Linked DNA regions of Homo sapiens. The protein of the gene in region 2 purifies or fractionates together with the protein of the main gene of each other region. This does not show direct contact. Each region holds a gene or a part of one and is shown on either strand. Other genes may lie near its edges.

Region 1 (7,131 bases), on a different chromosome or scaffold from region 2:
CAAAAGGTGACTGTATTTAATGCGGATTAACCACCACTCCTTAGATTTAAGCATAACTTGGTGGTATTAATACCAGAGGATGTGGTTAAACAAGACATGTGCACCTGATAGTCGTGGGAATACTATGAAGACCTCTCACTGGTTTGCAGTAATTACCATGAGCTCAATAGCAACAAGGGGCAGTGGTTACATGGGCTCACTCTTGGGCCAGACTCTGGCTTCAGAACCAACCTGTGTCACCTTGGGAAGATACTTAACCTCTCCATGCCTCTGTTTAGCCACTGGGTTGTTGGAAGGACTAAGTAAATTAAATCATATAAAACTCTTAGTGCCTGGCACAGAGGTTAGGCAAATAAATATTGGCTATTACAAATATTTGCTGAGTCTTCACATGCTGGGTAGCATGACCTAACAGCCTTCAAAAAGATATGTCACTTTACATACTGATAATGATAAACACAAAAAGCACTGAATACAAACCCCATTCTAAGCACTTTACATATAACAACTCGGTTAAGCTAAAGTTCTGATGTGACTGTTCCCCAACACGCTACACAGTTTGTTCAGAGCCAGGTTTCTATGCTTTTATGTGATTTCTTCCCTCAAACACTTCTTATACTCTGATGACATGCATACATGCCACCCAGTACTGCTAACCAACTGCTTTGAAATGGGAGAGATTAACCAGCTAACCACCTGTAGGCTTACATGTGACAAAAGCACTCAGACATGATAGGCCTACTTCAGGAAGCCTCAAAACCTCAGAAGTTGGGCACCACCCTGTATCTAGGTTTTAGGATTGTGTGTAGGAGTTGGGCTGTTGCTGATGTTATGTTCTCTTGGTCTCAAAAGACATTCTGGTTTTACAAAGGCCAGATCTACACTTTAAACATAATTAGGCAGAATTCACATTCATGCCAGCATAATATTGAAGAAAGGGGTGAGACAGCAAAGTGTGTAATTTTCTCCCTTTCAGTCAATGCTTGAAACTTACATTACGAAAATACTATCCTTCTATCATGCAAAATATTTCCCAAGTGTCATATGATCAACTATGTCAAATGTTCACCAAACATTTCCTGATATCATATATGTAAAATGTAGCAATACATTGAATGTCTCATAACCAACTATCTCAAGAACTCCTTCAAATTATGTTTAACATTCAAAATAGATACACCCGTTTCTTCTTTAAAAACTATTACCAACATGCCAGCACTTCTGGGCACCTTAAGTGTTATCACAGACTGAACTCTTCAGAAAGATGAAGAGTTAAATGTAGCTGCCTTTATTTTATCCTGGTCCTCCTTCCATAAAGTTAATCTGCTCCATTTAAGCAAAGGAAAATAAGTTATAATGCAAGTACAATATAATGGAGACTTCGATATAAAAACTTTCTACAAATGCTCCATTTATAATGTTCCAGTTATTTATAGGGTTAAGTAACTTAACCCTATAAATGGGTTGGTCCCATAACTTAATTACACAAATATTTTTAACAGTCAAGTATTTAACTTGAAAACGACAAATTGCACTGTACTCTTATTTTTTCAATCTTTAAAAACACTCTCACTAGGAGTCTTCTAAAGCCAAAATTAGGAACGTACCCTGCACTATGTAGTCAGAAGCCATTCCAAGAAAAGCAACCATTTAATACTGCTAAATCTAAAATGCTACATAATTTAACGTAAACTTGCACGCACGTGTATGTAGCTAGTCCCATACCCCAGAATCTTATCAATTCCTTCCCCAAACTTGCATATAATCCTCCCTCAAAGCCTCTTGGCTAAGTTAAATTCCTTAACACTCTACCAGGTTAATTGCAACAGCACATGTGCCAAGGAAATTAGTGGTTTTCCTTGCGCTCCCATTTTCAACCGGCACCTACTTGCAATTAAATCTCTGCAACAAAAAAGTTCACCTGAAGCCGTTCTTGCCATTTTAAAAGAGGCCCAGATTATGCTACCTGTCTGTGGTCTTGCCTAAGCTATAATAGCCTACCTCCAAAGAGGCTGGACGTGCCCCAAACACCAGCACACCAGACCTGCTGCCAACTTCGCTTGTCACCCCTAGCAGGAAGCTCAACCTAACATGTATACGTTTGTAGGGGCGGTGTGTTTGTGTGTGTCTGTGTTGGGGGGTGGGGAAGCGGATTATAGGAGAAAGGTGACTGAACACTTTCAACTTGTAACAAAAAAAATTTTTTTTAAATGAGGAGAAAAACAACTAAAACCAACATTCGCTCCCTTTCCTCCACCTTTTCTAAGCGCAGGAACCTCTCACTCCCCTGGAGCGCACCTTCAGGGCTTAAGGTCCCCGGGGTCACCTAAGCTTCAGCCAGTAACTGATTTTGGTACTCCCCGCCTTCCTAGGGAAAACCAGCAGACGCGCGAAGCGTCGGGCCCACCCGGCGGCGCCGCAGGCCGTGCACCGCCACCCCCGGACCCTCCCCCGCAGGTACGCTCCCCTCTGGCCTGGCCGTGGTCCCCACTCCCGCCCCGGAAAAGGGTTCACCTGAGGCCGCAGGGACAGCCAATGAGAAGTCCCCTTGGCCCCGCCAGCCGCCGCTCCCTACCCCCGCGCGACCCCCAGTAGCGTCCCCAGTGCTAGCCCCCGCGCGGGTGCCCGCGTCCCGGCCCGGAAGAGAGGCGGGACGACGGCGCGTCCTCTCCCCGCAAGATTACCTCGCAGCGCGTAGCCGGCTTTGTGTTTCCCCTCCCTCCTTCTCGGCAGCCGCCCGGGCTGCAGCAGCCGCCGGATCCGCCGCTGCGGCCGCCTCTTAAGCGCCGCAGAGCCCCAGAGGGTAGGGCGGGAGAAGGGGAGGGGGCTTGAGGAGGGAGGGACCTGTACGCCGAGCCCTGTGCAGCAGGAAGCGGCGACACCTGGGATGCCGACGCCTCTGGCGCTTGCTCTGTGTTTTAAAAAATCTAATTTAAACCCCTCTTCTTTCCCTCCCGCCCCTCACACTGGCGACCGTTACGGGCTGGCGGCTCGCGCTCTGGCGGGACTAGCCGAGCGCCCCTCGAGCGTCCCTTGGTCCCGCCCCCTAACGCCCCGCCCCTAGGTCCCCAAGCGCCCCCCCCGGTCACGCCCCCAAGGTCCGCCCCTCGCAGCCCCCTACGCCTCTGGCCCCGCCTCTTGGGCTCCGAAGCCTCCCGGCCCCGCCTCCTCAAGACCTCGCCTCTGGCAGCCCCGAGCTCTCTCTGGCCCCGCCCCGAGCGCCCCTCGGGAGTCCTGGTCCCGCCCCCGCAGCCCCCTCCGCGCCCTCAAGCTCTAAGTCCGTGAAGCCGCAGCGGTGGGGGCCTGCAGGCCCGGCAGCCGGGAGGGCCTGGTTCGGGGCGGCTGCCTGGCGCCTTTTCAACGTCCTCTTCTGACTGTGCAGCTCGAATCCGCGGCGTCCCCGGAGGGCCAGAGGGGGAAACGACCCCGATAGAAACCCGACCGCGAAGGGGAGGAGGGGCGCCTCGGAAATGTCTCCCGCCCTAAATGAGCGAGCCCCCTACTCCTACTCCCGAGGCTGAGCCGCCGCTTTGAGTCAGCCTCGGCCGCCCACGCTGGCTGCTGGGGCTGTAGGAGGCCACTGCAAAGGTTCAACCTCCGCACGCCCCCCGTGGGGCCTGGACTTTGCTCTCAGCACAGCTGCCTTCGCGGGCGCCTAGTCCCCACAACCCCTGCTTCACCTCCACATAGGGGGAGGACAGGGGCTCTCGCTTCTGCTTCATTTGGACCCCTCGAGAGTCTTCACTCCCGCTTTGGCTCCCGGCCTCTGAACCTTATGAGAGCTCACTTCTTTGAGGCGAAAAGTCGAGGCATCGCCAAGAACCTTCAAAATGAATGCGGGGCCGGGCAAACTTTGCAACACGCAATTGCAGGGCTGTGGATCCATCCACAGGTGACACCGGGCCTCCCACCCCCCTCGCCCAGACATGTTTCTCATCCCAACCTATTCTTGAAATAGACCTCCCAGCGGTGCACACTTTTCTCTGCCACCCACGACTTCCACGTCCCTCCTGCACCAGTACACTTGCAAGCACACCCCTCCGAGCGCCATTCTAATGATTCATGGTCCCTTGGGCCAACCCCACCCTAACACACACAACAAACTTCGTTCCCCACCCTTATCCCCCTTCGTTTCCAAGGCACTGGCGACAATCCACTTCATTTCCTTTCCTCATCTGCAGACTCGTCCCCCTCAAATACCTCACGCCATCCGCCTCATCTTCATCCCCCCCCTCCTCCCTAAAAATGTGCTAATTAAAATGTAGTTTCCTCTTCCCACATATGAAGTGTGGAAAATGAATCTTGTCTTGACACAAACTGTGATGCATTTATCGTTTTCTCTCTCCACTGGACTAAGGCTGTAGAAATTTTAGTCTACCACCATCTCCCATTTGCTCAAAAAATCCAACCATGCCTTATTATTTTTAAATACTCTTAACGAATCGTGGGGAAGGCTGCCTAGTTTGAGGAAGAAAATTGTTTAGAAAATGCTCAGCCTGACATTTTATTTGGTATTTAAAAATATCTGCAGTATTTGAGAGAGATATTGGGAGTGGCTGGATATTTTCTTGCATTTAAAAAGCAAAAAAATGAAAAGCTTTGCATGCATCAAGGTTAGCCTTTTTATGAATAGCAAAAAAAGTATCCTAAGGGCACCTATCAGAATATAGTCCTCACTATATTTTGCTAGTCGCAAATCTGGACACCCCCACCACCACCAAAGGAAGACAAATTAACATAATCCATTTTAAGCATGTCTGATGAACAGTCTTTTCCATGATCATTCCTTTTCTCACAGTTTCTGGACAAAATAGCTAGATAGATCTCCTTACCCACCGAAGATCCAAAGCTTCCTTCTAACAAGGGTAGTAGACGTACGTGTCTGTGTCTTCTGTTCTCTAGGTGTGGATTCTGCAATGCTGCACAGAAACCTACTGCAGCCTCAGACCAACAGCAGCAGCAGCAGCGGCGGCGGCGGCAGCAGCAGCAGCAGCATTAGCAGCAGCAGCTTCTCTCAATGCTGAGTAGTAAGTGTTTGACTTAGTAAACTCTACAATTACCATTAGGCGCTTGCTTATGAGAGGAGGCGGAATCTTTCTTAAAGGAATGGGTTTTGTTTTTCCTCTCTAGTATTGCTTCATAAGAGGCAGAGAGGATGGAATCAGGGAGTTTTGTGGACTGAGTAAATGAGTACAGCTGTGGGAGGTCAAGGTTAAAATTAACTGGGTGGTTGAGGAATGGAGGCAATGATTTTAGTGTAAGTCAATGAAATGCTAGAAGCACCAGTTTTAAAGAGCCCTGCTAATTTCAAACATTGGGGTAATGGCAAAATAAAGTTGTATGCCTTGAAACTGATTAGTAATTTGTGCTAATATTTAATTTAATTTAATATTTGTGCTAATATTCAACATCGTACTAAAATAATAACTATATAAAGGAAAGCTATTTAGTATTTAATATAAGAATAAAAAGAAAAATGAATTAAAACTCGTTTATGTGACTAGAAGCAATGGATTCAAGTCCTACCTATAAGCATACTTGGAACTTCAGTGAATACCAGTATTAGAAAATATATTGTTGACAGGTTTCAATGTGTGCTCATGTGATATAAAAAATCACAATATTGCCGGGCGTGGTGGCTCACGCCTGTAATCCCAGCACTTTGGGAGGCTGAGGCAGGTAGATCACGAGGTCAGGAGTTCAAGACCAGCCTGGCCAAGATGGTGAAATCCCGTCTCTACTAAAAATACAAAAATTAGCCGGGCGTGGTGGCAGGCGCCTGTAATCCCAGCTACTTAGGAGGCTGAGGCAGAGAATTGCTTGAACCCGGGAGGCGGAGCTTGCAGTGAGCCAAGATCGCGCCACTGCACTCCAGCCTGGGTGACAGAGCAAGACTCCATCTCAAAAAAAAATAAAATAAAATTACAGTATTATGTATAGAAAAAACAAAATATATCTAAAATAATTTTTGGATAATAGCACAGTATTAATGCTATTTCAGTGGCAATTCAAAGGTCAGCAAAATTAAGAAACACAAGTGGATTGACTGACTCTAAGTGCATATGAATCTGCTATTTACACTATTAAAATGTGTCGTGTCCACCTGAGAATCTGCATTATAACCTTACATTTTATCTTTATATTACTTGATTTAAGCACTTACCAGTTATGTTTTTTTCTCTATAAGTAAATGAAGAGGTGTGATCTCAAAATATGAATAGAAAGAAATAAAGGAAATATTCTGCCTTTAATTTTCTTTGCACAGCTTTTGTTAATGATGTACCTGTGTGATCTTGAACAAGTAAATAACCTTATTTGGTTCTTAGTTCCCTATTTTGTAAAGTGAGGAAGTTGGATTGAAATTTCCCAGGGTCTGGCCGGTCATGGTGGCTCATGCCTGTAATCCCAGCACTTTGGGAGGCTGAGGCAGGCAGGTCACGAGGTCAAGAGATCAAGACCATCCTGGCCAACATGGTGAAACCCTGTCTCTACTAAAAATACAAAAATTAGTCGACTCACTGCAATCTCTGCCTGCCAGGTTCAGGCGATTCTCCTGCCTCAGCCTGGGACTACAGGCGCATGCCACCACACCCAGCTAATTTTATGTATTTTTAGTAGAGACAGGGTTTCACAGTGTTAGCCAGGATGGTCTCGATCTCCTGACCTTGTGATCCGCCTGTCTCGGCCTCCCAAAGTGCTGGGATTACAGGCGTGAGCCACCGCACCCGGCCTCAATTTTTTTTTTTAATGCCTCCTACAGGGAGAGAATTAAAAGAAATTAGTTGCCCAGTTTCCTTCATCTGTTTTTGTTTTCCTTGCTTCTCTGCAAGGAGGGCTTTTTATTTCATCTACCAGGTAGTATTGAACAATGAATAAAATGGTGATTATTTGTATAATTCAAAGCATTCCCCCACATCCCCTCCCCGCAAATTGAATGCATTTCTTTACCTCTTCCCAAAGTGCTCAGCACAGTCTCTTATATAAAGGCACTTAACGGATACTTTAAAAAATGAATACACGATTTAATGAATGAATTGCTCCCAACATATCCAGAAACTGACTACAAAGTGTTTTTGTTTGTTTTTAATTTGCATTGTCCAAAACAACTGACTCCATTCTCTACCTCCCTTT
Region 2 (7,312 bases):
AAGAGGAGTCCCGAGAGCGAGAGGGAGCAAAGAGAAACATCAGGGGCAGAGAGAGAACAAGGAAAATGGCCTGGAGCCACTTTAAAACGCAAGTTCTTCATGCCTTACACTGCTTTAAAAAGTTTTAAACTCAGGAAGTGGGCCCTACGTGACAGAGAAAGACTCGGCCTGGGGAGAAAATTCACTACACGGTGTGGCTGACATCTGTCCTAATTCTGTAGTTTTAGCCACTCACATCTGATAGAATAACAGTAACAATCACAACACCGCTAAGGATGATCCCCATCCCATTACTGCCTGCGGTAAGTATTCACCACCAGCTTGGCGCAGGGCTGACTGCATGGCGAATTTGGTTAGCTTGAGTGATTCTCACAATAAGCCATGGGGAAGGGGTTCTTGCCAGCCCCAGTTTGCAGATGTGTAAACTGAGGGTCAGAGCAGTAAAGGGACTTGCCTAGGGCCACATCCTGGAGAGTGGCAGAACCTGGCCTCCCGCCCAGATCTGCCTAAGAAGGCATGAGGCTCTTCCAACCAGGAAGCCAGGACTGCGACAGGGAGGGCAGGGTTGTCTCAGGTCCCAGTCTCAGGCCTAGCTCCAGCCACATCACCCACACCTACTCAGGGTCACCAGATGGAGAACAAGTCTTAGACAAGACATCGGAAGCCCATGTGCACAGATGGGGAAGCTGAGGCTTGGAGTCTGTACCTTGGGTCAGGCCTGTGGCCTCCCCACCACACGTTGCACCAACCACATTAGCATCCAGTCCCGTGAGTGCTCATGTCTTTCCAAGTTCAGAAGAACCCACTGGCTTCCTTACCCCTTCCAGGGAAGAAACTAGGCTTAGCCCAAAACCCCGAGGAAAACTTTTGTTTCTACAACTGTCCCGATGCCTTCAAAGCCCGAGGAGGTTTCTGGGCTTAAGCGTTCTTAGAAAAGGTCCTCACTGCATAACTAAGAATCATGTTTCCCTGCTTAGAACAGAAAGGCAGCACCCCCTCCCCCGAACTGGATTACTAGCTGCTCTTGAGACACAAAGGGGTTGGCACAGAAATCAGGCTGGTGGAGAGGGCCGGTGAGAGCCTCTAGATGTGCCCCCCATGTACCTCTTTGGGACAGTCACTGTCACACGCTGGACTTAAGGGTTACTGTGATCCTCATGTTTCCTTTAGAACTTTGGAGTCATTAAGTAGAGAAGCCACCAGACTTGGTGTCCCGCCATCCTCCACCCCTCTCATTTACAGGTGGCCCATGAGATTCTTAAATCTGTGATAAGTTCCAGCTCCTGGGGAAATTCTCCTCTTTTCCCCACTTGCAAAACGGGGACGTGAAGCTGCACAGGGTAGACACTGAGAGAGGCTCTGGGAGTGTCAGCGGCCAGTCACGGGGCCACAGGGTAGACACTGAGAGAGGTTCTGGGAGTGTCAGCGGCCAGTCACGGGGCCGCATGGGTGGGCTGCCCGCCGGGGCCTGCCTAGCTCTCTCCAAAGGGTCCTTACGCTCAGAAACAGCTATTTTCACCATCCCTGTCTTAGGGTGAACCTTCAGATTAAGTCACTCTCCCAACTCTGCCTAAATGCAGCTCTTTTCACCCTGGGGACGGCCTTCTCTGGGGTCAGGAAGCAGGCCAGGAAAGGAGCCCCAGGGTCCCAGGGTCCTCACCGGGACCCCCAATACCCTAGGCACACTCTGGAGACCGGGCTTTGGGGCTGCAGAGGAGAGGCTCCTCTTTGCTGTTCCTGTTAGGGCCTCGCCAGAGGGACACTGGACTTGTCTGCATAAAGCGGTCTTCTGCCTTGGAGACAGAAAGCGATACACTGTGAAGAAATCGGGCTTCTAAAACTAACTGTGCTCTCAAACACAGTGCCGTTTGGAACGGGGAAGCACTCCCCCAGCTCCTGGCATACACTGGTAAAAGCCAGAAAGATAATTGAGGCCCAATCGCAAAGCCCTGAACACACCGGTCTGGGAGTTGCAGAGTGCCTGAATGTCTGCCATGGGCCCGCACAGGGCCAGAGGCCTGGAGGGCAGCCCTGCAGCCTCTCTGGTGACCCCTGATGGCACAGACACTCCTCAGGCGGACGGCACACTTGCTCTGCCAGGAAACACTGGGAGTAATGTCTCTCTGCTTTCTCGGCATCTTGCAGGGAAGGACACAGGAACCCGGGGGGAACAGTGGCAGGGTAGATTGCAGGACCGTGACTCCAATCTGGATCCACAGGCAAACTTTTCAGGGAGCCACCGGGCCAATGAGGCCACCTGCATACCTGCCTAAAGCTTCCCTCTGGCCTCCGTCCTGTCTTCATGGTATCTCCACCTTCCCCCTATCCGCGGCCCCCCACCAGGCCTCCAAGCTCGGCCATCCCTAGCAGTTCCCAGAGCTGGCTCTCGGCCGTACTCACATGCCCTGCTCGCCGTACTGGTTGTAGAACTCCATGTGGCTGCACGCCTGGATCCAGCCAACTACCCAAGTCTCCTTCTTGGGGATGGGCGGCATGACCACCTGGGCCGAGGCCCGGAAGTGGGGTGTCCGGTAGCGGAGCACCACGCTGGAGGACTCATCGATGCTAGTGGGGACGGGGTCGATGGAGGCTTTCACATCAATCACCGTGATCCCTTCCCGGAAGACTCTGGCTTTGCCTCCGATGCTCTGAATACAGCCCATGGCATACAGGAGCGCTCTGATCTCCAGGGAAGGCCAGCAGTCACAGAAAAAACCAGGCATTGAAAGGACAGAGGCTGCAGGACCCAGTACAGACGGCGCTGCTCTCCAATCTCAACTCTCAAGACCGATATCCATAGGATAGAAAACTCACTGAGTAGACTGGGGTTGCATATATCACTACCGCGGCCTGTTTATAAATAAGGATTCTGCTGCATTTCATGAGCCCTGGGCTCTCTCTTCTTCTCCTCGCAGTGGACAAAAATCACCGATATTCTTTGGGTTAAAAAAAGTTTGTAGTTTAATGAATAATTATGCGGTTCTGACATCCAGCCCTTCTGTGCCTCACACGCGGGGACGGCAGCTCGCAGACTCTCCCTGAAGTCTTCGGAGGAAGCAGGCGAGCGCCGGCAGACTCATAAATAAGGAAGGCTCTGTCCCCGCGCGGCCGCGCCACCCTCGCGGCAGAAGCCTGACTTCCTGCCCTCCGGCCTTCCGCACGCGCTCCCTCCGGGCCCCGCACCCGCACCCGCCCGGCGCGGTCGAATCAATTGCAGAGCAGTTTGTGTTCACCCGGCCGAGGTCCCGGCGCCCTCGGGGCGAGCGCCGACCCGCGGCTTCCAGGAGGCGAGCTCAGGGCTCCGGCCGCTCGCCGGTGACGGGGGAGCGCGGCGCGGGTCCCCGTCGGCGCCCACTCGCGGGCGCGGGCCGGACGTCCCCACGCAGGGGCGCCGCGTCCCTTCGCCGCTGTCGCTGCCGGCCGCCGTGCAGGGTCCCGGGGCTGCGCTCCGGCCGCCGCCGCCTGCTTCGCCGCGGCCGCCGAGGACCTGGTGGGAGGTGGAAGGGACAGCGCGTCAAGGCCAGCCTCAAAGTTAAGCCGAACTTTGCTGCGGGGGGCGCGCGGGGGCGGCGACGCGTGTGCGCTGGGCGCGGGCTGCGGAGCTGACGGCGCAGCTCTGGGCGGTCTCCCCGGAGGCGGTGGCCCCCGCCCCCCGCGCCCGCCCCGTCAGTGGCGGCCGCACGACCGCGCGCACCAGCGAATAATAGCCGCCCGTGACATCTCCGCTGATACCGTCCCGGACGGGCGGGGTGGGGGGCGAGCGGCTGCCGCTGCAGGGGGCGGCGAGCACTTGCCCTGCTCTGTCCCCACCGCCGCGCCGCCAGCGCCAGGTGCCCCTTCCCCACCCCGGTCCCTCCGGCTCCCTGGGCGCAGGGCCACCCACCAGTGCCGTCGGATCCGGCGGGCACCCCTTTCCCGGCTGGGGTCCCTCGGCCCTCGGAGGGCATAGTGCCCCCGCTCCGCCGCGTCAAGCGCCTCTGTCGCCCCTCTCCAGCCGCGAGCAGCCCCGGGTCCCCACGCGTCGGGCGCGCTCGCCGCTGCCGGGGAACTTTGGCGCGCACGCCCCCACTCGGGCGGCGCCGCCGACTCACCTGCCCCGGGGGCCACTCCGCTGGCCCGGGCAGCCGCTCTCCGGACGCCCCTGACCCGGCCGCGGGCACGTTCTTGGGGCGCCCCCACCCCCTTCCCCGGGCACTGTCCCTTGGCTCTACTGGAGTCTGGGGCCGGCGTGGGCGCCCCCGGCCCCCACCCTCCTCCCGGCTTGGGGCTTCGGGGGGGCGGCCGGGGGCGGAGGGCTGAGGCTCGGGGCTCTCTCGCCCCCACCCCGCGCGCCTCCTTTATTTTATGATCATTGTGAGCGCGCTGTCGCCGCTCAGCCCCGCCGCCGCGCCGCTGCCGCCTGGCGCGCCCCGCGCTGCCTCGCTCTGCTGCAGCATCGGAAAGGCAACCGGGTCAAACTTTGCAGAAACTCGGCCCCTGCGCCGGCCCGGCCCCCGCGTCCGCTCGCCGCCGCCGCCGGCCGAGCGCAGCCGGCGCACGCAGGGACCGCCGCCCGCTCGCCGGCCCCGCGGGGATGCAGGTCCGCAGGCGGCGGCGGCGGCGGCGGGCGGGCGCCGCCTCCTCCTCCCCGCCCGCCTGGCTCTCCACCCTCGCTCCCCGCACACAGCCCGCCCTCCCCCTGGTAATCCCTCGCTCCCCCTCGCTCCCTGTCTCTGCAGCTGCTCGGGGAGCTGAGCCTCTCCTTGAACAAACGACATTTCCTTTTTGGCCAGCCCCGGGAATTCTGGGTAGTGTAGTTCCGCTGCTGTCTCGGGGCCAGGTGGGCTGCTCCCAGTGCCCTTTGAACTCTATGGACCAGAGGCTTTCTGGGGTTCGGAGCACCCGCAGAAGGGCTCCCTTGCCCTGGGGTTCCTGACCGCAGGGAGACAGTGGCTTGGTGGAGACAGCGCGGGGGCTTTGTAGGCTCCAAGGCTGGGAAGGTCGCGGGGAGGGGAGAGCAGTTTGGGGAGAGGTGGGTCCCCTCGAGCAGGTCTGCTGGCTGCCTGTTGGACCCCGGCTGTGTGATGAGCGCTGTACAGAGCATCATTTCAGCCACCATCGGCCTCCCTGTGGAGGGAGACTGATGATGTGCACTTCACAGAGCAGGCACCCAGAGCTGAGAGGCTAGGGGATTTGCCCAAGGTCCTTCCCCCCGTCCCCCCGCAGGGGTCCCAGTGCAGGGGCTCAAAAGGAGCATGAGGCTGTACAGCCATGGGAGAGCTATGAACCCCACCCCTACCTTCCAGCCAGCCGTAGGGAAAGCCCAAGCAATTTGTGACATAAGTACATCTGGCAGCTACATTAAAGCCACGCTCTTCGTCCCCACCCCATCCCCATGACTCTGACTTCCACAGGTGCCCACAGCCGGCACAGGGCAGGTGCTTCCAGCCAGTCCCAGAGCCGGAGCACGCTGAGTGTGTGAGGGCAGGGCTGGAGGGACCGAGGGGCTGGCCACTCTTGGATCTCTCCTTTGAGGGGTTAACAACCAGGACATCTCACAGCAGCACCGGCTCAGCCATGGAGCAGGAAGTGGCTGGCTAGGGTGGCCTCCGCCTCTCACCCAGCCACACCCTCACCCCAGCACTGCTATGGCCCGTATCCCCAGCTAATGAGGAGGTGGTCCCTTTCCAGTTCAGCTAGTAGGTGGCTTATTCCTAGTCCCACTGACTCGGGCCAAGGCAGGGCCACAGAGATGGCCCCCTTGGCCTGTTGGACACAGTAGAACCCCAGACAGCACACAGATTACATCAGGGCTCTACATAAATGTCCATTTCCAGGAAGAAGTCTTCTCTGGCCTCTTCACCATGTGAAATGGCCTCTCCCTTCCATGAACTAATGGCCCCCACAAAACCTTCTGTCCCTCTGACAGTCACAGGGCCTTCTGCACCTCTTGTGCCATCAGATAATTACTGCACTACCCAGTTTATATGTAGGGACGATATTCACTTTTGAGATGTCTGTTTCATTTCCCGACTCTCATCACCCCGACAGCCTGGCCAGGGTGCTCTGTGAGGGTAGGAATGCTATCCTGGAAATGAGGTGACAAGTTCAAGTGCTCAATGAACAGGGCCAGAGCTGCACGTCCCTCTCGTGGAAAGGACAGGGACCAGAGCCCTGAACCGCCTTGTGAGCAGTGAAGCTGCTGGAGGTGATTTCCCGGGGGTGGGCTCTCTTCAAGGCCAGCTGGGAGTGACAGTGCCCCGCCCCCTCCGTCCTGGGCTCCGCCTGGGTTTGTAAAGCACCCACTGTGTGTCAGGCGTTACATTGAGCAGGCACTGTCTCTTCTATCCTTGACCTTAGCCCTAGGCAGTGGGCTCCACAGATAGAGAAACCCAAAAACCCAGGGATCAGGGGATAGAGACTTCTCAGAGGCTGGATGCCAGCTCCGATCTGACCAGCTCCAAAGCCCACATTCAGCTTCTTCACCAAGCACACCCCACTTGCTAGCCAGGGCCAGCCCCTCAGAACTAGGATGGGACTGATCACTAGGAAGTCCTACCAGCAGAGGTGTGTGGGCGCCCACATGGTGAGGACTTGCAAAGTAGAAGACCCCTCTCCCTTAACCTGCTCCCCCTTGACATCACCCCTGCACAGGATGTCATCTCAGTCTGCAGGAGAAGGGACCAGGAAGCATCAGTCCATGGGCCTGTTTGCCGGCTTTGAGCTGGGGGGCAGCTCTGCCAGGCAGAGGGTGTGAATGGGCTCGGCTCCTGCATGCACTCCCTGCCCTGGCTTCTGAAGCGCCCACCAGGGTTCTGGTGGCTTCCCCAGCTCGCGGCCCCTCCGGCCCTGCCGCTTCCCTACACAGCCCTTCCTCCTGCTCGTCATTTTCCGGAGCTCCGTGGGTGTTGGGCACAGACCCACGGCAGCCTCAGCATATGTGGAAGGCTCATGACGCATCCACGCGCGTGTGAAGTGCCGGTGTCTGCAGAGCAGAGGAAGGGGACATCTGTTTGAGTCATTGCCCAACAGCACAGGGCACTCCCATTGCTCTCAGGACCCTTTCCCCTCCCCCAGGCCTCAGGCTCCCTGGACTCTGAAAAATGAGAAAGAGGAGGGGTGGGGAGACACGGCCCCATCCCCCACCCGGGATGGTGAACACTGGGATGGCCACTTGGGAGCTCAAAGTGTTGTCAGTGGGAGGACAAGGTCCTCAATTCCTGGCACATTGGCCCAGAGAAGTCATGAAAACCCAAAGCCACACAGCAAGTCAGAAGTAGAAACAACACTGACCCTGCCAAGCTGCAGGGACCTGGGAAGTCTTTGGAAAAGA

The links. Proteins that work in one complex are often made in the same cells at the same time.
Region 1: the proteins of FAM78A (region 2) and ADD3 purify together in Homo sapiens (affinity purification with mass spectrometry; 3 studies listed by BioGRID and IntAct, with this or other methods). This does not show direct contact.

The regions. Positions count from the first base shown.
Region 1 is NC_000010.11:110,003,853-110,010,983, reverse strand, and holds the start of ADD3 (gamma-adducin), read right to left. Parts: upstream 3,001-7,131; 5' UTR 2,685-3,000; exon of another isoform or gene 2,002-2,684; intron 1-2,001. UniProt on the Homo sapiens protein: Membrane-cytoskeleton-associated protein that promotes the assembly of the spectrin-actin network. Plays a role in actin filament capping. Binds to calmodulin.
Region 2 is NC_000009.12:131,273,457-131,280,768, forward strand, and holds the start of FAM78A (protein FAM78A), read right to left. Parts: upstream 3,055-7,312; 5' UTR 2,724-3,054; coding exon 2,401-2,723; intron 1-2,400.